Linked DNA regions of Homo sapiens. The protein of the gene in region 1 interacts with the protein of each later gene in a pairwise test. Each region holds a gene or a part of one and is shown on either strand. Other genes may lie near its edges.

Region 1 (8,583 bases):
AGCCCGGGGCCGGCCTGGTGTCCGGGGCCGAGGTGACACCGTGGGCTGGGGGGGCGGTGGAGCCCGGGGCCGGCCTGGTGTCCGGGGCCGAGGTGACACCGTGGGCTGGGGGGGCGGTGGAGCCCGGGGCCGGCCTGGTGTCCGGGGCCGAGGTGACACCGTGGGCTGGGGGGGCGGTGGAGCCCGGGGCCGGCCTGGTGTCCGGGGCCGAGGTGACACCGTGGGCTGGGGGGGCGGTGGAGCCCGGGGCCGGCCTGCTCTCCGGGGCCGAGGTGACACCGTGGGCTGCTCTCGCGGTGGAGCCCGGGGCCGGCCTGCTCTCCGGGGCCGAGGTGACACCGTGGGCTGGGGGGGCGGTGGAGCCCGGGGCCGGCCTGGTGTCCGGGGCCGAGGTGACACCGTGGGCTGGGGGGGCGGTGGAGCCCGGGGCCGGCCTGGTGTCCGGGGCCGAGGTGACACCGTGGGCTGGGGGGGCGGTGGAGCCCGGGGCCGGCCTGGTGTCCGGGGCCGAGGTGACACCGTGGGCTTGGGGGGCGGTGGAGCCCGGGGCCGGCCTGGTGTCCGGGGCCGAGGTGACACCGTGGGCTGCGGGCGCGGTGTAGCCCGGGGCGGGCCTTGTGTCCGGGGCCGAGGTGACACCGTGGGCTGGGGGGGCGGTGGAGCCCGGGGCGGGACTGGTGTCCGGGGCCGAGGTGACACCGTGGGTTGGGGGGGCGGTGGAGCCCGGGGCCGGCCTGGTGTCCGGGGCCGAGGTGACACCGTGGGCTGGGGGGGCGGTGGAGCCCGGGGCCGGCCTGCTCTCCGGGGCCGAGGTGACACCGTGGGCTGCGGGCGCGGTGGAGCCCGGGGCCGGCCTGCTCTCCGGGGCCGAGGTGACACCGTGGGCTGCGGGCGCGGTGGAGCCCGGGGCCGGCCTGGTGTCCGGGGCCGAGGTGACACCGTGGGCTGGGGGCGCGGTGGAGCCCGGGCCAGAACTGCTTTCCGGGGCCGTGGTGACTCCGTGGGCTGCGGGCGCGGTGGAGCCCGGGGCCGGCCTGCTCTCTGGGGCCGAGGTGACACCGTGGGCTGCGGGCGCGGTGGAGCCCGGGGCGGAACTCTCCGGGGCCGAGGTGACACCGTGGGCTGGGGGGGGGGGGGAGCCCGGGGCCGGCCTGGTGTCCGGGGCCGAGGTGACACCGTGGGCTGGGGGGGCGGTGGAGCCCTGGGGCCGGCCTGGTGTCCGGGGCCGAGGTGACACCGTGGGCTGGGGGGGCGGTGGAGCCCGGGGCCGGCCTGGTGTCCGGGGCCGAGGTGACACCGTGGGCTTGGGGGGCGGTGGAGCCCGGGGCCGGCCTGGTGTCCGGGGCCGAGGTGACACCGTGGGCTGCGGGCGCGGTGGAGCCCGGGGCGGGCCTGGTGTCCGGGGCCGAGGTGACACCGTGGGCTGGGGGGGCGGTGGAGCCCGGGGCGGGCCTGGTGTCCGGGGCCGAGGTGACACCGTGGGCTGGGGGGGCGGTGGAGCCCGGGGCCGGCCTGGTGTCCGGGGTCGAGGTGACACCGTGGGCTTGGGGGGCGGTGGAGCCCGGGGCCGGCCTGGTGTCTGGGGGGGCGGTGGAGCCGGGGCCGGCCTGGTGTCCGGGGTTGGAAAACTGGGCTGGGGGGGCGGTGGAGCCCGGGGCCGGCAGGGGTCCGGGGCCGAGGTGACACCGTGGGCTGGGGGGGCGGTGGAGCCCGGGGCCGGCCTGGTGTCCGGGGCCGAGGTGACACCGTGGGCTTGGGGGGCGGTGGAGCCCGGGGCCGGCCTGGTGTCCGGGGCCGAGGTGACACCGTGGGCTGCGGGCGCGGTGGAGCCCGGGGCGGGCCTGGTGTCCGGGGCCGAGGTGACACCGTGGGCTGGGGGGGCGGTGGAGCCCGGGGCGGGCCTGGTGTCCGGGGCCGAGGTGACACCGTGGGCTGGGGGGGCGGTGGAGCCCGGGGCCGGCCTGGTGTCCGGGGCCGAGGTGACACCGTGGGCTTGGGGGGCGGTGGAGCCCGGGGCCGGCCTGGTGTCCGGGGCCGAGGTGACACCGTGGGCTGCGGGCGCGGTGGAGCCCGGGTCCGTCCTTCTCTCCGAGGGCCGAGGTGACATCGTAGACTGCGGGCGCGGTGGAGCCCGGGTCCGGCCTGCTCTCCGAGGCCGAGGTGACACCGTAGACTGGGGGGGCGGTGGAGCCCGGGGCCGGCCTGGTGTCCGGGGCCGAGGTGACACCGTGGGCTGGGGGGGCGGTGGAGCCCGGAACCGGCCTGGTGTCCGGGGCCGAGGTGACACCGTGGGCTGGGGGGGCGGTGGAGCCCGGGGCCGGCCTGGTGTCCGGGGCCGAGGTGACACCGTGGGCTTGGGGGGCGGTGGAGCCCGGGACCGACCTGGTGTCCGGGGCCGAGGTGACACCGTGGGCTGCGGGCGCGGTGGAGCCCGGGGCGGACCTGGTGTCCGGGGCCGAGGTGACACCGTGGGCTGGGGGGGCGGTGGAGCCCGGGGCGGGCCTGGTGTCCGGGGCCGAGGTGACACCGTGGGCTGGGGGGGCGGTGGAGCCCGGGGCCGGCCTGGTGTCCGGGGCCGAGGTGACACCGTGGGCTTGGGGGGCGGTGGAGCCCGGGGCCGGCCTGGTGTCCGGGGCCGAGGTGACACCGTGGGCTGGGGGGGCGGTGGAGCCCGGGGCTGGCTTGTTGTCCGGGGCTGAGGTGACATCGTGGGCTGGCGGGGTGGTGGAGCCCAGGGCTGGCCTGGTGACTGGGACCGAGGTGACATCCTGTCCCCAGGTGGCAGCTGAACCTGAAGCTGGTTCCGTGGCCGGGGCCAGAGTGACATCCTGTCCCTGAGTGGTGGAGGAGCCTGAACCGGGGCTGTGGCTGGAGAGTACGCTGCTGGTCATACTCACAGCATTCTTCTCAGTAGAGCTGGGCACTGAACTTCTCTGGGTAGCCGAAGTCTCCTTTTCTCCACCTGGGGTAGAGCTTGCATGACCAGAACCCGTAACAACTGTTGCGGGTTTAGGGGCTGTGGTAGCTGTAAGAAGTTAAAGTCATAGGGTTGGGTCTTTATGAAGGAAAAATAAGAGCAAGAAGAAAATATAAGCTCTGGCCACCAGAGAAATAATACCAGGAGGACTGGGGAGTGGGCAGCCTCAGTAACCCCTGGGTTGGCCGCCTCCTTCCCTGCAGCAGCCTCCTTCTCTCTGCCCATAGGCCTTGGCTCATGGCCCCTGCATTTCTTCCCCTCTTAAGCCTTCCCTCTCCCTACTCTCTTCCCCCTAGACTTCTCTACAGGACATTTGCTTGCCCCTGGTACCCACTCTCAGGGTTGGGGGCAACTCTTCTCAGCCTGTCCTTAGCCTCTCCCTCCTTCTGGCACAGACAGGGCAGCCTCTGTCTGCAATTCTTACCTTAACTTCATGGTGCCATCTGCCAGGGAGCAAAACCCACAGAAAGACCACGAAGACCACCTAAGCAGGGCAGCCCACTCCCCACCTCGTGCCCCTCACCTGTAAGCACTGTGAGGAGCAGCAGCAGGAAGAAAGGAGACTGGGTGCCCGGTGTCATGGTGGTGGTGAAATGGGTGGGGAGGGGGCAGAACAGATTCAGGCAGGCGCTGGCTGCTTGAGAGGTGGAGCGGGCACAGGCGCCTACCGCTTTATACCGGTCCCCCCACTCCCCGCCCGCCCGCCCTAGGCACAGCCGGAGCAGGTGACAGGTGACAAAACCCCGCCCCCTCCCCTACCTCCTACCTCTTCCTCCTCCTCCCCAACCATTCCTGGGTAGGGTACAAGGGCTCTAATCGCTCAACCCCCTGACTACCCGTTTGTTCTCCAGCTGGCCTCCCCCTTTCACCAACCACTCCCTGGCTCCGGGGGAGGGGGGAGGGGCAGTCTGGAACTTGGGGCCCCTGGGCTCTAGTTTTAGCCTCAGGGCAACAACTAACGTGGGGATGGGGAACAAAGCCAGCTAGGTCGAGGTCCTGTACAGCAAGGTCGGGAAGCCCACCCCTAGGTCTCCCACTCCACTTCCCCGCCCTCCCCGGGTCCACTGAAGCAGAGCGGGGCCGAGAAATAAGAGGGCTGGATAATGAGTGGACTAGGTGCTAGTTTTGGGCTCCCTCCCCCCACCACTTCCCGGAATAGCCCCACCCTTCTAACCGCTCCCTGTCCCGTTCCACACGCAGTTCTACCCTGAAACCCACAGTCCCCGCCCCAGCCGGACTTTCCAGCAGCCTGGGTTCCCTCCTTGGAGAAAGCCAAGGAGGGAGTGGGGGAAGAAATTTCCACTTAAGGGAGTAAACCTGGGCTCCGATGAACCCTAGGGTCCTTCCTTGCCACTCTCCACCACTGGCCAGGAGCTCCTCCCGCCCTCTAGTGGTCACCGGGAGCCTTGCGGGGCTGGGCCGCGCAAGCTGAGGGGCCGCTCGGACCGGGCGGAGAGGAGTAAGGGCAGCGCTGCCTAAGTGAGGCAGCGAGAGCCCGCGAGAGGGAAGCAGGGCCCGGGAGAGAAGGGTCACTGCCGTGGCCAGGGAGGGAGGAACGCACAGCATGGTGGACGGCTGGGAGCTTTAGGAGGGGGCACTCCGGGACGCGTGGTGGTGGCGTCTGGAGGAAATGGAGCTAAGCGGGTGGGGTCCTGAGGTATGTGGAAGGGGCACCGAGGTATGTGGGAGAGGACGTTGGAACGTGGGCGGGGGAGTTGGACACGTTCTGTGTGGGCCGTTATGTACTTAAGAGGCAGATCGGGCGTGGCACGGTGGCTCACGCCCGTAATCCCAACACTTTGGAAGGCCGAGGCGAGTGGATCACAAGGTCAGGGGTTCAAGACCAGCCTGGCCAAGATGGTGAAACCTCGTCTCTACTAAAAACTACAAAAATTAGCCGAGCGTGGTGGCGGGCGCTGTAACCCCAGCTACTCAGGAGGCTGAGGCAGGAGAATCGCTTGAACCCGGGAGGCGGAGGTTGCAGTGAGCCGAGATCGCGCCATTGCACTCCAGCCTGGGCGACAGAGCAAGACTCCGTCTCAAAACAAAAAAGGGGGGGGCAGAGAGTAGGTGGGGTGACAGAATGGGATTTACGGACACAGAACTATCCTTTGGGGAGCAGAGTGGTATTGGGGACAGGTAGGCACGTAGCGGGGGGCAAAAGCACACGTGAGGTGCGTAATGCGCGACAGCCAAGAGGTGTGTGCGGCAGCAGTGCACGAGGGGAGGAAGCTATCCCAGGCCGCGGCAGCACGTGGAACTTGGGTCCCGCAGTCGCAGGCTGCGCTCTAGGCCGACGGAAGCAGTTCCGCCTGTATTCAGAAAACAGTTCTCAGCCCCAAAGACACAGGTTGGAAAGAACACTTTAAAAACACTTCGGCGAGGCACGGGATTGGAGCGCATCAGATCAGCAGGCGAGAGACCACAGCTCTCGCCCGCGCGCCGCGCGGCGCCCGAGGCGCAGCTTTGTGTGCGGCGAGACCCTGGGGCAGGCGCTGGGCGGGGTGGGGACATCTGACGTCAGCGCGCCCGGGAGCGCGGGCCGGGGAGGCGGGGAGCCCCCCAACTCGCAGGCCGGAGAAAACACGAGTAGCTAGGTGGGCGGCCCCAAACCTCAACTCCCGGCATTGCCAAGCAACAGCCATTCAGTTCGGTTGCTGGGACACGCGTCACCATGGCGACGGCTCCGCGCCGCGCAGTCTGAGTACTTAAAGAGCAAGCGCGCGCAACGCCCGGGCGTCGGAAAGCGGCCTTCTGGGACTCCGCAAACTCCCGTTCTCCCTCCCCCCTCCCCCTTGCCATTCCCTTTGCCTTCCGGGCGCCAAGTCTCTCTGGCCTCCAAGGTGAACCCAACTCCCCAGCGCGCCCCGGGTTCCCGGGTCGGGCCGGCTTCAGGCGGTGGGGAGCGGGATCCCGGGCCCCGGGCGGGCGGGAGGGACGGGACGCGGTGCAGTGTTGTTTTTTCCCCCGCCAATATTGCACTCGTCCCGGCCTCCGGCCCCCCCGGCCCCCCGGCCTCCCCGCTACCCCTAGCGGGGCAGCCCCCGCCCTCCTGGCTCTCCATCCCGGCGGATCTTTGATAGACTGGAGTGTCGCCGCTGCCACCGTGAGTAAGTGGGTCTGGGAGGACTTCGGGCATCCTCCCTCAGGCACCCTATCCTTCACTTAACTCCATCCAGCACCTCCCCCACCCGCATCCCCAAATCAGCCAAACTTCCCCTAGATCCCTAACTTCCACCCTCCCAGGCTTTCTCTTCTACTCGCCGATTCCTTCCACTTCCCCACCCTATCCCGGAAAATCCCTAAAATAAGCAGTTGCACTGGCTTAGAAAACAACCAAAACTTTATGGCAATGTGCTGTCATCTTTCCTGGGGTTAGTGCCTGAGTAATACCCCTTGAAAACTTCTCATCCCCTGAAGGGTGGGGTGACCACCCCTCTGGGACTGAACTCCTTTTGGGAGCCAGAGAAGGGTCTGTGGTTGGCTGAGGGGCTGTAGCTTAGACCTCAGGGTCTCCAGGATGGACCCCAAGGCCAAAGGGTCTAAAATTCTGAATTCTGAATCTGGTGGCCTCCTCCTCACACCCTTCCCTGGAGCAGCTGCCTCCGGAATGGCTCAAAGTCCTCAGGCACTGTGTCTGAAGAAGGGGAAATAAGTAAGGTCAGAGGATGTGGCTCTCCCACAAGGCATGAAGGATTAGGTTGATCTCAATCAGCCACCTCACCATTGCATCGATACTGGAGATTGGACCAAATTATGTTTTCTTGGGAGAAGCAGAATACACCAAGACGCCCCCCTCGCATGGATGTGTCAATGATCACCCCAGAATCCGCCACAAGCTGGGGTCCCTCATAGAGCTTCACCCTGTCCAGGATTCCAGGATAGGAGTATCCATTGGTGCTAGGGTGCCAGTGGGCACTGTGCCACCATGCCTGGGGCCTTGCTTTTCCCCAGCCCCCCTTGAGCTCACCAGGCCTGAGAGAGAAGGGAGGGAGGGAAAGGGAGGCAGGAAGGAGAGGGAAGGGGGGTGCTTTTCTCAGGCCTGGGGCCCCTAGCTCTTTGTCCAGCTCCTTTTGCATCTCAAAGCACCAGCCGCATTCCAAGCGAGGATTGGGTTGCCATGACAATAAGCACAATGGGCTGGGGGGTGAAGTCACCCGCTTCCCAGGCTCTAGTCCACCCCCTTTTATCCCCTGTCCTGGCACCCCACAGCCCCAGGCACCTTAAAGGGGAACCAACCCAGGTTCCTGGACTCTGGGCTCTTGGCCATGGAAAGTCCAGCCTCTAAGCAGACCCATTTCCCCTCCCTTCCTGTTCATCTCCACCAACTAGGGCTACTTGTTGGAGAGAAATGCAAAGTTGTGGACAAAGTGTTGAACCGAGGCCTGTGAAGTCAGGGCCTTGATTTTCTCTTCTGTAAATGATGATGCCTTCCAGGTCAGATGATCCCTATCCACGTTGATAAGACAGGTTCCAGGTCATACCAACTAAGGGACCAGATGTGATGTGCCCCTTCACAGATTGGCCTGGGTTTGGAGGCTTCTGGAGAACTGTAAAGGGCATCTAACCCAATGCCCTCATTTTACAGACGGGAAAATGGGTCATGGAGGAGTGACTTCACCAACATCACTCATAGGTGCTTGTGTCCGTGGTGAGAAGGGTGATGGAGAGAAGTGGCTGCAGTTCCCACCCATGGAGAGGTCACTGGTGAATCCCAGCTAAAGAGGAAGGACAGGCCCGGCCTGAGTCCCACAGGTGGGCTCAGCCCCTCTCCTTACCGAATGTAGCCAACTTGAGGCCGGTGCAGAAGCTGCCAGCGATAGGAGGTCTTGTCCCGCCAGCCCACATTTCGTGGGTCTGTCCACAGCAGTCGTACCTGATCAGGGGTGTGGCCAGTATGCCACAGGGCATTTCGGAGGTGCTCACCTGGGCCAGACACTGATGTCACTGCCTAGGAGACATTGGCAAAGACAGTGGGTCAACTGCAGAACTGGAGTGAGGGGAGACAACAGGTCGGTAAGTGCAGGTGGGAAAGGGATTCAAGGCGGTCATGAAAATGCCCTGGGGCCCCAGAGAGCCGGCCTCCAAGCCAGATGTCTGGGTAAGAGGGTTCCCAGTCAAGCAGTGGGGGAGGCCCTGGGGCTGCAGAGGAGAGCTTTGGGAAAGGGCCCTGGGTTGCGGAATCTGAGCAGCTGGGGACCTTGAGCTGCAGCCCGGGCTGGGCAACCGCCCGGAAGGGTGTAGCCTGCCAGTAGGTCTGCTCGGTCTGCTTCCACATGACTACGTAGAAGCGGCCACTGTCTTGATAACTGAAGAGAAAGCCTGCGTAGTCATCATCAGTCACTGTGTTCACATGGAAGGTGCCTTCAAAGTCCACACCATTGAAGGCCGTGTATCCTGGGGTGGGGGTGGGATAAAGGTCAGGGGCAGCAAAGCTACTGGCGGCCCATCATGGGGTAAAGTTGGGAAGGGATGCCTGCTATGTATGTGGCCAGCTTGTGCCACTGCCTTCTCTCTCGCCACTTTGCCCATTCTCCCTGTCTGTTTCCTCCCCTACCCTCTGCCCCTATAGGATTCCTCCATTTGGAAGTGATTGAACTGCATAT
Region 2 (7,666 bases), about 76 Mb from region 1:
ATCAAATAATGGCAGTTCTACTAACCTCACAGGACAGAGATGATGCATATGAGAGCATTTTGAAAACTATAAAGTACTATATGGTTAAATGTAACAAACACTGAGTACCTGCTATGTATAAGGTGCTATAGAAGTGTTAGGTATTATTACTATGCGATGAAGAATTCCAGTGTTCAACAGGTTATATAAAAACTGCACCCCAGAAACAAGGCTTTAAGCTTTTTATGGGTTGAAAACTGAGAAGGCAGAATAAACACATAAACATACCTCTAATTGCCTGAAAATTTGATGTAAGAACAAATACTTTAATGAGTTTGAGGCACACAGATGTGTAGTCATGTTCCCAAATGACAGCTGGAATCAGCAAGAGTTTTCCGTAGCTAGATAATAATAATGCTTTCAGCAGCAAAATGAAGTTGGGCTTTTTTTTTGCCGTCATGGGCCGTTCTACCCACAGGAAGGTAAAAATGCCAATAAAATAGGCAGTTTGTTCTAAAGAAGAAATGGAAAATAAAAGTATGAATGTCCCCATCCAAAATATATCCCCTTAAAAACAAATAAACCACCATTCTAAAATACAGCTTATCAGCTGACTTCATAAGAAATACTTTCTCAAGATCACAATCTCTTTTTCTTCTTCTTTTTGTTTGTGTGTTGTTTTTTTTTTTTAAATAAACCCCTGGCTTTTGTATTAGATCCTGCTGGTATAATTTCAGAAACATTATCCACTGAAGAAAAAGTAACTCCATTAGAATTGTAATCATCAACTTTCTGAAGTTCCTTGAAGGAAGTAAGATTCTGCTTAAACATCTTCAGTGTAAGAGATCTCCAAAGAATAAAACAGGAGAATGCAGGCTTTTCAGTCTGAAAGATGGGACCTATCGTAAGAATGGGATAACACAGGAAGACATTTTTCTCTGTGCATTCTTCCACTATTTAAGTGCCTATTATCCACATGATTTTTTAATATTGTTAACTGAGACTTCCTTTACTCATTTTAACAACATTTTAAAATGCAATTCCTTACACTTCCAGAAAGTATTCATAGGACAGAGTCCAGATTAACAGCAGCAATAGTTCCACTGTGTCCTATGGTCAGAACACAGCACAATCTGTTCAGCTTCTATTAACTAGGAATTTAACATCTCTTTTAACTGTGCTGTAATTTTTATTAGGATTGTTAGTCATCCGATTACCCAACTGTATCCATTCTGAGTGGCCAGTCCCTTATTTTATTTTTTCCCATATAAGCTATGTTATTAGCAGTTTAGGTTTCTGCAGAATCAGGTTTCTCTGGACACATGTATTATATTACAGCAGAAACAACTATCCTCTTTTTTAAACTTAATAAAGCCAAACTAAAGAGGTTCCAAATGTAGGTAATTAGGATCAATAAAAATAATTTAGGGGCTGGGCATGGTGGCTCATGCCTGTAATCCCAGCACTTTGGGAGGCCGAGGCAGGCGGATCACAAGGTCAGGAGATTGAGATCATCCTGGCTAACACGGTGAAACCCCGTCTCTACTAAAAATACAAAAAACAATTAGCCGGGAGTGGTGGCAGGCGCCTGTAGTCCCAGCTACTCGGGAGGCTGACGCAGGAGAATGGCGTGAACCCGGGAGGCGGAGCTTGCAGTGAGCCGAGATTGTGCCACTGCACTCCAGTCTGGGCGACAGAGCGAGACTCCGTCTCAAAAAAAAAAAAAAAAAAATTAGGATGGTTAACCTCCATGAAATATGATGTATTCTTCAAGGGAGACATGCTATCTCCCTTCAAAATAACTAAAAGACTTGTCAGCTACAAGAATGTACTCAGGTAGATTGTAAAGCTTGGATTTTGGATAAAAATAACAATAAATAATTCCTTGAATGAATAAATAGTGAAAGAATAGCGAATAACAAGAACCATCTAACAATGGTGGGTTGACTCCTGTCACTGGAGACACTCAAAGCTACAGCATCTCTCAGGAGTCTAGACAGAAAGATTTCTTGCGCCACACAGGCTAGACTAGATAACCTCCACATCTTTTAAATTTAGGATTTACGAGATTTATGGAACTACACCAGCCCTCAGGCTCTCATCAATCAGGTCAGTTCAGAAGGAGCTGCTACCTACGTATAGAATACTCCAGTGTGGAAAACACTGAAGGGGGTCGGGAGACTTTCCTCAGTTTCAGCACTAGTGACCCACTGTGAGACTTCGGGAAAATCTATGCATCTATGTTTCTGCAGCTATAGATGGGGGAACCCCTAACCTACCTACCTCAGAGGATGATTGTGAAAATTAAATAATTCCTGTAAAAGCAGTTTTTAAATTATAAAATGCTTTATTTATGTAAGATATTCTTTTAGTTTTTTGAGACAGAGTCTGTCTTGGTCATCCAGGCAAAAGTGCAGTGGCATGAACATGACTCACTGCAGCTTTGACCTCCTGGGCTCAAGCGATCCTCCTGTCTCTGCCCCTCAAGTAGCTAGGACTACAGGCACATGCCACCATGCCCAGCTAATTTTTGTATTTTTTGTAGAGACAGAATATTGCCATGTTGCCCAGGCTGGTTTCCAACTTCCGAGCTCAAGTAATCCACCTGTCTTGGCCTCCCAAAGTGCTGGGATTACAGGTGTGAGGTACCACGCCCGGCCAAGATATTCTTTTGGACTATACAGTCTAATTAGGGATTAGACTAAGACACATAAAAAAGTTAAGTAATAGTAGAAAGAAACTTCTGATTAAGCATCAAAATATCTACTACAGAGTAGTTGCTATAAGAATTCCAACCCATTTAAAAACAAGCCTGGTTTTTAATAGTATATACAAAATATGGACATATAACAGTTTATCTTTAGAAATTTTAAGAAGGGCCAGGAACAGTGGCTGATGCCTGCAGTCTCAGCACTTTGGGAGGCCCATATGGGAGGACTGTTTGAGCCCAGGAGTTCAAGACCAACCTGGACAACAGAGTAAGATACTGCCTTTACATAAATTTTTTTTTTTAAATTAGCCAGGCACAGTAGCATGTACCTGTAGTTCCAGCTACTCAGGAGACGGAGGCAGGGGGATCCCTTGAGCCCAGGAGCTCCAGGCTGCAGTGAGCTATGACTGTGCCACTGCACCCTAGCCTCGGTGACAGAGCAAGACCTTCACTCTTAAAAAAATAAAAATTAAAAAAAATTTTTAAGAGGCTTTGCTTTAAGGTTTAAAATCATATTAGGTTCTAGTTCTTGGGCTAGATGATGTGCTCAAGGATGTTTTCAGTAGTATTATGTTTCATAAGATAAAAAGGTTAACATATTCTTTTGTATATTTCAAATATTTTAAATTGTTGCAAAGTCCAAATTGTATACAAAATTATCGATAGACTGGACATCATGGCGGTTAAGCTGTCATAAGCCTTAGTAATTACATAATAATGGAGGCGGAGATTTTTCTATGTATTTTCCATGGATATATCTCTAGTACCTAAAGTACCTAAAGTAGTAACTGGCACCTAATAAGTATTTAAAAATATTTCTTAAGGGAATGAATAATAATGAATAGTGAATGAATAATCACCGAGTGTAACTGATGGTGACTTGCTCAAGTTAAGAGTGCGTGGATGAATGTATGCAATCATTCATTCAATCAGCTGAGCAAATATTTATTAAGCACCTGGGCCAGGCACCTAAGTGCTTGAGCTACAACCGTGACTAACACAAAGAGCCCTGACCTCATTCAGTTGACATGTTAGTGGGGAAAGGCACTAACAAAAGATAATAACTTCTGTGATATGTTAAATAGTAAGTACCATAAGAAAAACAAAGTAGAGCCGGAACAGGAGATCAGGAGTGTCAGAGGTACACTTCATTTAGAAAGTGTCATTTTAGCCAACTCTTGAGGGGTATGCAGGAGTCAGACATCTGGGCATCAGGGGGACAGGCATTCCGGGCACAGGAAGAGCCACTTCAAAGGCCTTAAGGTGGAAGCTCATCCAGTGTTTCTGAAGCAAGTTAACTAGATGGGGAGGGTCAGAGTAGACATGGGAGATGACAGCTGTGGATAAAATGAGAGACGCAGTGGGAGGGGCAGATTCCAGTACAAGGCCCACTGTAAAGACTTCAGCTTGCACTCTGAGTGAAACGGGGAGCTACTGTGTTCTAGCACAACAGTGACATGATCTGATTTGGTTGAAAAGGACTACTCTGTGTTGCGTGCAAATACACAGTTGGAGAACTGGGCTAGCAAACAAGGAGGCTACTGTAGTCATGCAGGTGAAGGATGAGAGTGGCCTGCAACAGTGTGGCAGCCGTGGAGGGAATGGAGGGTAGCAGTAGTATAATAGTAGAAGTGTGGCTGGGCGCAGTGGCTCATGCCTGTAATCCCAGCACTTTGGGAGGCAGAGGCGGACGGATCACGAGGTCAGAAGTTCGAGACCAGCCTGACCAACATGGTGAAGCCGTCTCTACTAAAAATACAAAAATTAGCTAAGCATGGTGGCACGTGCCTGTAATCCCAGCTACTCGGGAGGCTAAGGCAGGAGAACTGCTTGAACCCAGGAGGCAGAGGTTGCAGTGAGTCAAGACCGCGCCACTGCACTCCAGCCTGGGCGACAGAGTGAGACTCCGTCTCAAAAAAAAAAAAAAAAAAGTAGAAGTACTTTGAAGGTGGAGCCAATGGGATTTCCTGATGACCTGACTATGGGGTATCAAAGAAAGAGGCATCAGGGATGACTGCAAGGTTTTCTGGTGAATGCAACTAAAAGAATGGAGTTACAACTGAGAAGGAGAAGGCTGTGGTAGAGGCAGAGAGATGAGGAGCTCAATTATGGGTATGGTGATTTATTAGATATCCAAGTGGTGATGTTGAGAAGGCAGAGGGATGCAGAGTCTGGAGGTCTGGAGAAAGGTCTAGATGGACATTTGAGAGTTCTCAGCAGACAGGTTACATGACCAAGAGAGCGAGAGCAGACAGAGAAAAAAAGAGGACAAAAGAAGACACACAGCCCAGAAATGTGATATTGGAGTGGACTGGAGACTTAGTATTACTAAAGTAAGATTTCATTATAATCAAAGAGTTGAGAAGCAGAGAAGCATGGAACTAGCAATAAAATAGTCACAGAAATTAGCTCAACACAATTCTGACACTAGGAAAACAATAACTTATGAAGTGAAATTCTGAAAAGCACTTCCTGAACTTAAGGAATTTTGAGGAGTAGCCAAATTCCCTGCATGCACTCAGATAAGTAACAAGTAACAAAAAATACCAAACCCTATTAAATACACTGCATTAGTATAATGCAATTAGTACAATACATTGGGTAATGTCTGGCAATTATCTCTATTAATAAAGATAGGACTTAGCTAACTTTCAGATTGGATAATCAAAACTTAAACATTAAGAATTTTATTGGCCAGGCACAGTGGCTCACACCTGTAATCCCAGCACTTTGGGAGGCTGAGGTGGGAGGACTGCTTGAGTTCAGGAGTTCAAGACCAGCCTGGGCAACACGGAAAGACCCCCCATCTCAACAAAAAAATACAAAAATTAGCTGGAGGTGGTGCATGGTGTGGTGGTGCATACCTGTGGTTCCAGCTACCTGGGGGGGCCGAGGCAGGAGGATTGCTTGAGCCCAGGAGTTCAGGGCTGCAGTGAGCTGTGACTGTGCCACTGCACTCCAGCCTAGGCAACAGAGTGAGACCCTGTCTTAAAAAATATATAATAATAAAAATAAAAGAATTTTATCAACAATATTGTGCTTCGAAATATTTTATGAAACTTTCTAATCCGATAAGCATAACTACTTCCATACCATATACGTGGTAACAAATTTTTAAAAAGCAGGTGATTCAAACACACTCACCTCGTAGGTTAGTAGTGGTAGAGCTGAAAATTTCATCTTAAGTCCCATATTAACTAGCTCTTCTTACCAACAATTAAGACTACATGTCTTAGTTTTAACCAGATTAGTTAAGTAAGAATAGTTAACTAAGAATGGAAAGCATGGCATCTCCTTACCTAAAGCAGCAATCGCAAACATTCTATAGAAATCCCATTCCTTAGCATATCTGATCAAGTCATCAGGGGCAGTATTCTGGTTGGAATCTTGAAGCTGCCACCACCTCAGGTATGCTTCACAAAGCAAACAAAATATGCAGAGTTTTCCATGGATCTGATAGTCAAAGACATTGCCATTCAATTAGGTAAGGAAACCCAGTTGCACTAGTATCAACAGGTACAGAGTATTTGTGGCATCCCACCTAGTCACTTTTCAAATTCAGGACTGCCCAATTAAGTGGCTAATTGTAGTCATTTTGTAATCAGTGAGTTTTAATCAGCAATGTCCATCAGAAGCACATGGGGAGATTTTTTTCAAAATTTAAATGTCTGAGCCCAGGTCCTGATTGAGAATCTTCATAGTACAACATAGACATCATACTTTGAAACAGTTCTGGGGGGATTCTAATGTGCACCCCTAGTTAAGAATCACTGCTTTAAATAATAGTTCACCTTTCATTATACATTTTTGATTTCTGTCCTTTATACAGAATCAAGCAAAAAACTTATGTGATTCATGTATATGTGGGAACAGCAATAAGAGAATAGACTTAATCTGAAGATTCCATGATATTGAATAAGAAACTATTAGTCTGAACATCAGTTTTTTAAAAATATCTCCAGCTGGATGAGTATGACTCAATATGTTAAAAGAGAACAATTAAAACCTAATTCTTAAAAGTCTGAAATTTTGGCTAAAATAAAAAATACTAGGCAACAAAAATTGGCTTTTTTCTATGTATTCCTCCTTCAGGTTGAACTTTCTCCATCAATATAAAGTGAGGAAGAGCTGGGCACAGTAGCTCATGCCTGTAATCCCAATACTTTGGGAGGCTGAGGTGGGAGGATCACTTGAGGTCAGGAATTCCAGACTAGCCTGGTCAACATGGCGAACCTCATCTCTACTAGAAATACAAAAATTAGCTGGGCTTGGTGATGCGTGCCTGTAATCCCAGCTACTTGGGAGGCTGAGGCAGTAGAACACTTGAACCCAGGAGGTAGAGGCTGCAGTGAGCCGAGATCACGCCACTGCACTTCAGCCTGGGTGACAGAGCAAGACTCCGTCTCAAAAATAAATAAATAAATAAAATAACAGGACCGCCAGTTAAATTTGAGTTTCACACACACCATGAATCCATTTTTATTGTATAAGTATGTTCCATGCAATATTTGGGACATTCTTATACTAAAAAATTAATTCATGGTATATATGAAATTCAAATTTAATTGACTGTCCTGTATGTTATCTGTCAACTCTACCCAAACTATTAAAGAGCTCACAATTCAATAAACTAAAAGTTTATTTTGAAAAATTCAACTTTATAAATCAGGACTTTGATTAAACTGAATGTTATTTACCTTATACATTCCTTTAATAGCAAAGTATAAAATGCAATAAATTATGTTTTAAAAAAACATTTTTCTTTTAATGTTTGCTTAACTCATTTAGGTATAATTCTCTCCCTACCTGGATATGTCTAATTGTATTCTGTTAAAAACCAGTGATGATTGTTTCAATTTACTAGCAGGTAATTCAGATCATGGCTTGTCAGTTTCCTGCCAGTGACCATATTCTTAAACACTCACTAAGCATTGTGCACCTTTCAAAATCAACATCTATTATTTCTAGAAACTTCCA
Region 3 (7,666 bases), on another chromosome or scaffold:
TTTATGTGTACTTGTGTGTCTGTGTTTCTAAGTCTGTGACTTTGTCTATGTGCGTGTGTGTCTGTGTCTATGTCTATGTGTATTTGTATTTGTGTGTCTGTGTTTCTAAGTCTGTGACTTCATCTATGTGTGTGCGTCTGTATCTATATCTGTGTCTATGTCTATGTTTATGTGTACTTGTGTGTCTGTGTTTCTAAGTTTGTGACTTTGTCTATGTGCGTGTGTGTCTGTGTCTATGTCTATGTTTATGTGTATTTGTGTGTCTGTGTTTCTAAGTCTGTGACTTCATCTATGTGTGTGCGTCTGTGTCTATCTGTGTCTATGTTTATGTGTATTTGTATTTGTGTGCCTGTGTTTCTAAGTCTGTGACTTTGTCTATGTGTGTGTGTCTATGTCTATGTTTGTTTATGTGTATTTGTGTGTCTGTGTTTCTAAATCTGTGACTTCATCTATGTGTGTTTGTGTCTGTGTCTATGTCTGTGTTTATGTGTATTTGTGTGTCCATGTTTCTAAGTCTGTGACAGTCTATGTGTGTGTGTGTCTGTGTCTATATCTATATCTGTGTCTATGTCTATGTTTACGTGTATTTGTGTGTCTGTGTTTCTAAGTCTGTGACTTTGTCTATGTGTGTGTGTGTCTGTGTCTATATCTGTGTCTATGTCTAGGTTTATGTGTATTTGTGTGCCTGTGTTTCTAAGTCTGTGACTTAGTCTATGTGTGCGTGTGTCTGTGTCTATGTCTATGTTTATGTGTGTTTGTGTTTCTAAGTCTGTGATTTTGTGTATGTGTGTGTATGTCTGTGTCTATATCTGTGTCTATGTCTATGTTTACGTGTATTTGTGTGTCTGTGTTTCTAAGTCTGTGACTTAGTCTATATGTGTGTGCCTGTGTCTATATCTGTGTCTATGTCTATGTTTATGTGTATTTGTGTGTCCATGTTTCTAAGTCTGTGACTTAGTCTATGTGTGTGTGTGTCTGTGTCTATATCTGTGTCTATGTCTAGGTTTACGTGTATTTGTGTGTCTGTGTTTCTAAGTCTGTGACTTTATCTATGTGTGTGTGTCTGTGTCTATATCTGTGTCTATGTCTATGTTTATGTGTATTTATGTGTCTGTGTTTCTAAGTCTGTGACTTTGTCTATGTGTGTGTGTGTCTATGTCTATGTTTATGTGTGTCTGTGTTTCTAAGTCTGTGTTTTTGTGTATGTGTGCGTATGTCTGTGTCTATATCTGTGTCTATGTCTATGTTTACGTGTATTTGTGTGTCTGTGTTTCTAAGTCTGTGACTTAGTCTATATGTGTGTGCCTGTGTCTATATCTGTGTCTATGTCTATGTTTATTTGTATTTGTGTGTTTGTGTTTCTAAGTCTGTGACTTTATGTGTGTGTGTCTGTGTCTATATCTGTGTTATGTCTATGTTTATGTGTATTTGTGTGTCTGTGTCAGTTTCTAAGTCTATGACTTTGTCTATGTGTGTTTGTGTCTGTGTCTATGTCTTTGTCTATGTGTAGGTCTATTGTGACAGATGCATTAAACCTCTAGATCAGAGCAGCCCATGTCTTGCTCACAGCAATACTGTTAGCCAGAGTGGGATTGTGGCACTGGCTCTTCATCCTCAAGTCAAATTTCTCCAAGGGTAATGTTTTCACTTGTATGTGCAGCAGAGTTTGCATCCTAAGAGAGGGGCCCTACATTATGAGTCTTGGCACATTTTCTATTTCTTCCCAAGAAAGAGAATGAGAGAGACAGAGAAAGAGAGAGAGAGAGATTGAGTGAGAATGGTAGCTTTGTGAGAGATGGTGTGCTTTGTTCTGGAGCATAAACAAATCCTCTTCAGTGAGATGCCATAGTCCTTAGCCTTACAACCCAAACGTCTCCAGGGGGATAAGATTCTCTAGATTTATCACTCTAGAATGTGGGCAAATCTTTGAAGCAATACTTAATCTCTAATTTCCAAGGGAAATTGCCATTTAATTCTCCTGTAACTCAGGTTGCCAGTAACTTTTTCTCAGAAACTTTTCATTAAAATATTCATGGGTCATTGAGTCTTCCCAGTAGGAACCCAAGAGGAGGCAAGGAAGCCAGAGAGGAAGGCCATGAGGTGAGGGCTCTGGCCATGGTGACCAAGAGGGGTCTAGGAGTGCAAGATGGACTTGGATTTCTGGAAAAAGGATGAATCTTCAGAGACTGTCTCAGATTAGACTCAAGAGCCCTTAGAGCTAGTGTGACTTTTTATGGGGGTGGGGGTTGGGGGGGGTTACTGCCTTCTCTCCAGGATGAAGACGGGAAGAAGTTATCTGATGAGGACATAAGAGCAGAAGCTGACACCTTTATGTTTGAGGGTGAGGGCCCCAGTGTGGGGCTAGAGAGGGGACCGGGATCTCTCCCTTCCAGGAACAGGGTGGGTAGACCCCCACAACCTTCCCATCCCCCTTCCCCCATCCTCCCTGAGGCCCTCAATGCATGGGTGCTGTCTACCTTCGGGTGCTGAAGCAGCCCAGAGACCCAAGCCTGCCTTGCTGCCCCCCAGGCCATGACACCACGGCCAGTGGTCTCTCCTGGGTCCTGTACCACCTTGCAAAGCACCCAGAATACCAGGAGCGCTGCCGGCAGGAGGTGCAAGAACTTCTGAAGGACCGTGAGCCTAAAGAGATTGAATGGTGAGTGCAGGTGCTTGTGGCCTCTTCCTGAGACCTTCTCATTGGCTCTGCTCCCCAGGTGGGGAGGGGAGGAAAAGCTGTTTTTGTTGATTCTGCCACTATTGCCTAGTGGGAATAGGAGCAGAGGACCACAGGCAGGACTTAGTACCCATCCTGACTGTCTGGGGAAAGGTTATAGGCCCTTAGGACAGAAAGACCTGGGCTTCTGAGAGAGTTGGTGATGATATGTGAGGACAGATAACGCCACTTAGACGTGTTCAGCAAATGAACTTCCCCTCCACTCTCTTCCTTTCCTCCCAGAAATATCATTTTTTTTGAACATCTTCACTTCTTGAATGTTTGCTCTTCTGTTCCCTAATTCCTACTCTCCAGTCGAGTCCAGGGTTTTATAAGGGAGACCTAGGGGTAAAATTCATCCATTCTTGTCCGGAACACTTGCACTGTTCATCCGTCCCATCCTTATTCAGCAAACACTCCCACACTGCATTTTCACCCCCACATCTGTGCACAGCATCTTTCTGTGCTCTGGAGACCTGGGAAGGAACCAACCCAGGGATCTGTTTTCCAGGTGCTCCCAGCCTGGTGGTGGAGCTGTCCCTGGGCAGGACACTCCCAGCCCACATGGGCAGAGATGGGATTTACAGTAAGAGAAGCAGGACTAGGGGGTATAGAAAGTGTCTCAGTTGAGAGCCTAAATAATGATCAGTAGATAATTGGGTACAGTTGGGGGGCAGTGCTCTAGGTCAAGAAGACTGCCTGGGGTCTTTGGGGGAGGAAGAGAGAGGGAGGAAGAGAGAGAGGAGAGCGAGGGAGAGAGAGAGAAGGAGAGAGAGAGAGAGCAGGGTCAGGACAGAAAGGAGGAGAAGGGGAGAGAGAGGGAGAGACTGAGTTGTAATGAGATGATAAAACCGGAGATGGTAGCAGGGGCTGGCTGTGGAAGCCTTGGGGAAAATGTTAATGGCTTCAGTTTTAGCCCAATGGCAATAGGGAGCCATGGGAAGTGTTTGAGCAGTGTAGGGACAGGTCACATCTGGGTACCAGGAAGATCTTTCTAGGGCTAGTGTGGAGGGCGTACTGGAGAGGACCAGCTGTAGAATGAAGGCACAGTGGGGACATTCTGAGACCAGAGCCAGGCCAGGGGCTGGAGGAAGGAGAGGAAGCATTGGAATGGACGGATGTCTTGGATTCAGTGTCCTCTCGTCCACACCTTTGCCCAGCACAGCAGTCCAGTGAGGAGGAGAAACATTTTTCTGCTTTTAAAACCAATAATTTTTCTGCATTTTTAACAAACAATTTTTTATTGCTGCATAAATAGATGCACATAGATTTGAAATACATGTGATAATCTAATACATTCATATAACTGGTAAAGATCAAATCAGTGTACTTGGGATATCTGTCGCCTGAAATATTTAGTCTTTTCTTTATGCTAGAAACATAACTAACATAAGCTAACTATTTAGGAATATACAGTACATATCGTAAACTATAGTGAACCCACTGATCTATCAAGTGCTAGGTTTTATTTCTCCTATCAAACCTCTTATTTATGCCCGTTAATCAACTTCTCCTCACCCCTCCCTCCCTTCTACCAATCTACCTTCTACTTTCATGAGATCCACTTTTTCAGCTCCCACATGTGAGTGAGAACATGCGATATTTGTCTTTCTCTTTTTGGCTTATTTACTTACCACAGTGACCTCCAGTTCCATCCATGTTGCCACAAATGACAAAATTCCAGTGTTTTTAATGGTGCATAGTATTCCATTGTGTATACATGCCACATTTCCTTTCTTCCTTCCTTCCTTCCTCCCTCCCTCCCTCTCTCTCTTTCTCTCTTTCTTCTTTCCTTTCTTTCTTTCTTTGAGACAGAGTCTTGTTCTGTCGCCCAGGCTGAAGTGCGGTGGCACGATCTTGGCTCACTGCAACCTCTGCCTCCCGGGTTCAAGCTATTCTTCTGCCTCAGCCTCCCAAGCAGCTGGGACTATGGGTGCACACCACCATGCCTGGCTAATTTTTGTATTTTTAATAGGGCTGGGGTTTCACCATATTGGCCAGGCTGGTCTCGAACTCCTGACCTCATGATCTGCCTGCCTCGGCCTCCCAAAGTGCTGGGATTACAGGCATGAGCCACCGCACCCGGCCGCCACATTTTCTTTATCCATTCAGTTGATGGGCACTTAGGTTGATTCCATATTTTGGCTGTTTTGAATAGTGCTGCAATAAATACGGAAGTATAGATATCTCTTCAACAGTTTTATTTTCTTTCTTTGGGATAGAAATTTCTTCTCTTTCTTTTCAGTAGTGGAATTTCTGGGTTATATGTTAGTTCTACTTTTAGTTTCTTGAGGAACCTCTGTGCTGTTCTCTGCAGTGGCTGCGCTAATTTATATTCCTGCCAACAGTGTGTGAGAGTTCCCCTTTCTCCATATCCTCACCAGTGTCTATCGTTGCCTGTCTTTTTGATAAAAGCCATTTTAACTGGGATGAGATGATATCTCATTGTGGTTTTGATTTGCATTTCTCTGATGATTAGTGACATTGAGCATTTTTCCATCTATCTGTTGGCCATTTGTATGTCTTATTTTAAGAAATGTCTATTCAGATCTTTTGACCATTTTTAAATAAGATGATTTGAGTTCTTTTTCCCCTATTGAGTTATTTGAGCTCCTTATATAATATATTCTGGTTATTAATCGCTTGTCAGATGAGTAATTTGAGAATATTTTCTGCCATTCTGTAAGTTGATTCTTCACTTTGTTGACTGTTTCCTTTGCTGTGCAGAAGCTTTTTACCTTGATGTAATCTCATTTGTCTATTGCCTGTGCTTTTGAGGTCTTAACACAGAAAATCTTTGCCTGGACCCATGTCCTGGAGTATAAAATCCAGATTTCAAGCAAAATTATGGATGTGGTTAAAAGAAAGGGTCCAAAAAATTTTATGATAAAAATGAGCTTCCTTATTAAGCTCCACCTTAGCAGTGACTATGGTCAACAGTTTTCTGTGTATTCTTCCAGAAAATGGCTATCCCAATGCCCACATTTATATGAATTCACACTGTGATTTTTATTTATATGAACACATACTGTGTTTTTCTTTGTAAAGAAAACTATACAAAATAGACGCAGTTCTGGACATTATCTCTGAGATCTATTTTTCTTAAAATACGAGTTTTCAAAAATGAGTTTGTTTTTAAATTGTTCTTTCATTGATAAATTTTAATTATATATATTAGAGGTACAATGTGATGTTATGATGTATGTATACAACCTGAAATTATTAAATCAAGGTAATGAACAAATCCATCACTTCATATATTTATCATTTTTATGTTGAGAACATATATATATTAGAGGTACAATGTGATGTTATGATGTATGTATACAACCTGAAATTATTAAATCAAGGTAATGAACAAATCCATCACTTCATATATTTATCATTTTTATGTTGAGAACATTTGAAATTTACTCTCTTAGCAATTTCAATTAATACATTGTTCACTAAATCACCATGCTGTGCAGTAGATCTCAAAAACTATTCCTCTTGTCTAACTGAAGCTTCTATCCTTTGACCAACATCTCACCCTTCTCTATCCCTCCCTCAGCCCTGGCCTCTGGTAACCATCATTCTGCTTCTATTTCTTTTCTTTTCTTTCTTTCTTTTTTTTTTCATTTTTGAGATGGAGTCTCGCTCTGTCACCCAGGCTGGAGTGCAGTGGCACGATCTCAGCTTACTGCGACCTCTGCCTCCCAGGTTCAAGTGATTCTCCTGCCTCAGCCTCCTGAGTAGCTGGGATTACAGGCTCCCGCAACCACGCTTGGCTAATTTTTTTGTATTTTTATTAGAGACGGGGTTTCACCATATTGGACAGGCTGGTCTTGAACTCCTGACCTTGTGATCTGCCGCCCTTGGCCTCCCAAAGTGCTGGGATTACAGGCGTGAGCCACCGCGCCCGACCTCCACTCCTGTTTCTATGAGCTTGACTATTTTAGGTCCCAAGATAAGTAAGATCATGTGTGTTTGTGTTTCTGAGCCTAGCTTACTTCACTTAGCATAAGTTCCTCCAGGTTCTTTCATGTTGTGGCAAACAAAATAAGTTTTCTTTCTTTTTTTTTTTTTAAGGCTGAATGGTATTCCATTGTATATACACACCACATGGAAAATGAGCATTAAATTATAAAACCAGTGATAAGAACAGATTCTTCTTGCACCAAATGAGATATTACAGATAAGACTAGCTTTTTCCTTGACAATCCTGCCACCCCACCTAATCCTTTCTCATTCTCCAAAGGTGTCTCCAGAGCCATAGATTTGTTATCTATCTATCTATCTATCTATCTATCTATCTATCTATCCATCATCTATCTATGTATCTATATACCTATCTACTATCTATATATCATCTATGTATCTCTGTTTCTATCATCTATGTATGTATCTGTCTATTCTCTATCTCTCTATATCTCTTATTTATTATCTGTCATCTATCAATCTATCATCTATCTCTGAATCATTAATTTCATAAATATATATTCATATACTTTTTGCCCTTTTTATGTGCACAAATGTATATATTTGTAACTTGTTTTCACTCGACAGTGTGTCTTAATGCTATTTTTTTCTGAATGCTAAATATTTTATTCCTTATTTATTCAGCTCATTCCTATGTTGAATGCACATAAACATTTTCAGTTATAGTAGATATTTCCAATTTGCCTTCCACAGTGTCTGTACTGATTTACCTTCCAGCCTGCAGAATGTGATGAGACTAGTGATCCCTATTTCCTCCTTTTGTGTAGCTGTATAGTATTCCATCGTGTGGCTGTTTATCTAAACATCTTCCCATCAATGTGTATGTGGCTTGTTTCCAACCTTTTGCTAAAAGTGGACATGAGGCAGTCAGCATGTGTGCACAGTGACCATTCCTTGCATGTATAAGCATCTCTGCAGGACAAATTCCCTGAAGTGCAATTGCTGAATCAAAGAACATTTGCACTGTACAAT

The links. The genes of interacting proteins can lie anywhere in the genome.
Region 2: the proteins of MUC1 (region 1) and ARV1 interact in binary tests that used the Homo sapiens proteins (3 or more experiments, as listed by UniProt).
Region 3: the proteins of MUC1 (region 1) and CYP4F2 interact in binary tests that used the Homo sapiens proteins (3 or more experiments, as listed by UniProt).

Annotation. Positions count from the first base shown.
Region 1 is NC_000001.11:155,189,286-155,197,868, forward strand, and holds the start of MUC1 (mucin-1 isoform 10 precursor), read right to left. Parts: upstream 3,631-8,583; 5' UTR 3,559-3,630; coding exon 3,501-3,558; intron 3,026-3,500; coding exon 2,623-3,025; coding exon of another isoform or gene 2,263-2,622; intron 2,022-2,262; coding exon of another isoform or gene 1,696-2,021; intron 1,367-1,695; coding exon of another isoform or gene 1,204-1,366; intron 1,203-1,203; coding exon of another isoform or gene 1,095-1,202; intron 918-1,094; coding exon of another isoform or gene 1-917. Other genes in the region: THBS3 (thrombospondin-3), read right to left, coding at 6,556-6,614, 6,702-6,841, 7,756-7,928, 8,178-8,374. UniProt on the Homo sapiens protein: The alpha subunit has cell adhesive properties. Can act both as an adhesion and an anti-adhesion protein. May provide a protective layer on epithelial cells against bacterial and enzyme attack.
Region 2 is NC_000001.11:230,988,586-230,996,251, reverse strand, and holds part of ARV1 (protein ARV1), read right to left. Parts: intron 6,143-7,666; coding exon 5,989-6,142; intron 5,677-5,988; coding exon of another isoform or gene 5,554-5,676; intron 493-5,553; coding exon 268-492; intron 1-267. UniProt on the Homo sapiens protein: Plays a role as a mediator in the endoplasmic reticulum (ER) cholesterol and bile acid homeostasis. Participates in sterol transport out of the ER and distribution into plasma membranes.
Region 3 is NC_000019.10:15,880,917-15,888,582, reverse strand, and holds part of CYP4F2 (cytochrome P450 4F2 precursor), read left to right. Parts: intron 1-2,274; coding exon 2,275-2,341; intron 2,342-2,529; coding exon 2,530-2,659; intron 2,660-7,666. UniProt on the Homo sapiens protein: A cytochrome P450 monooxygenase involved in the metabolism of various endogenous substrates, including fatty acids, eicosanoids and vitamins.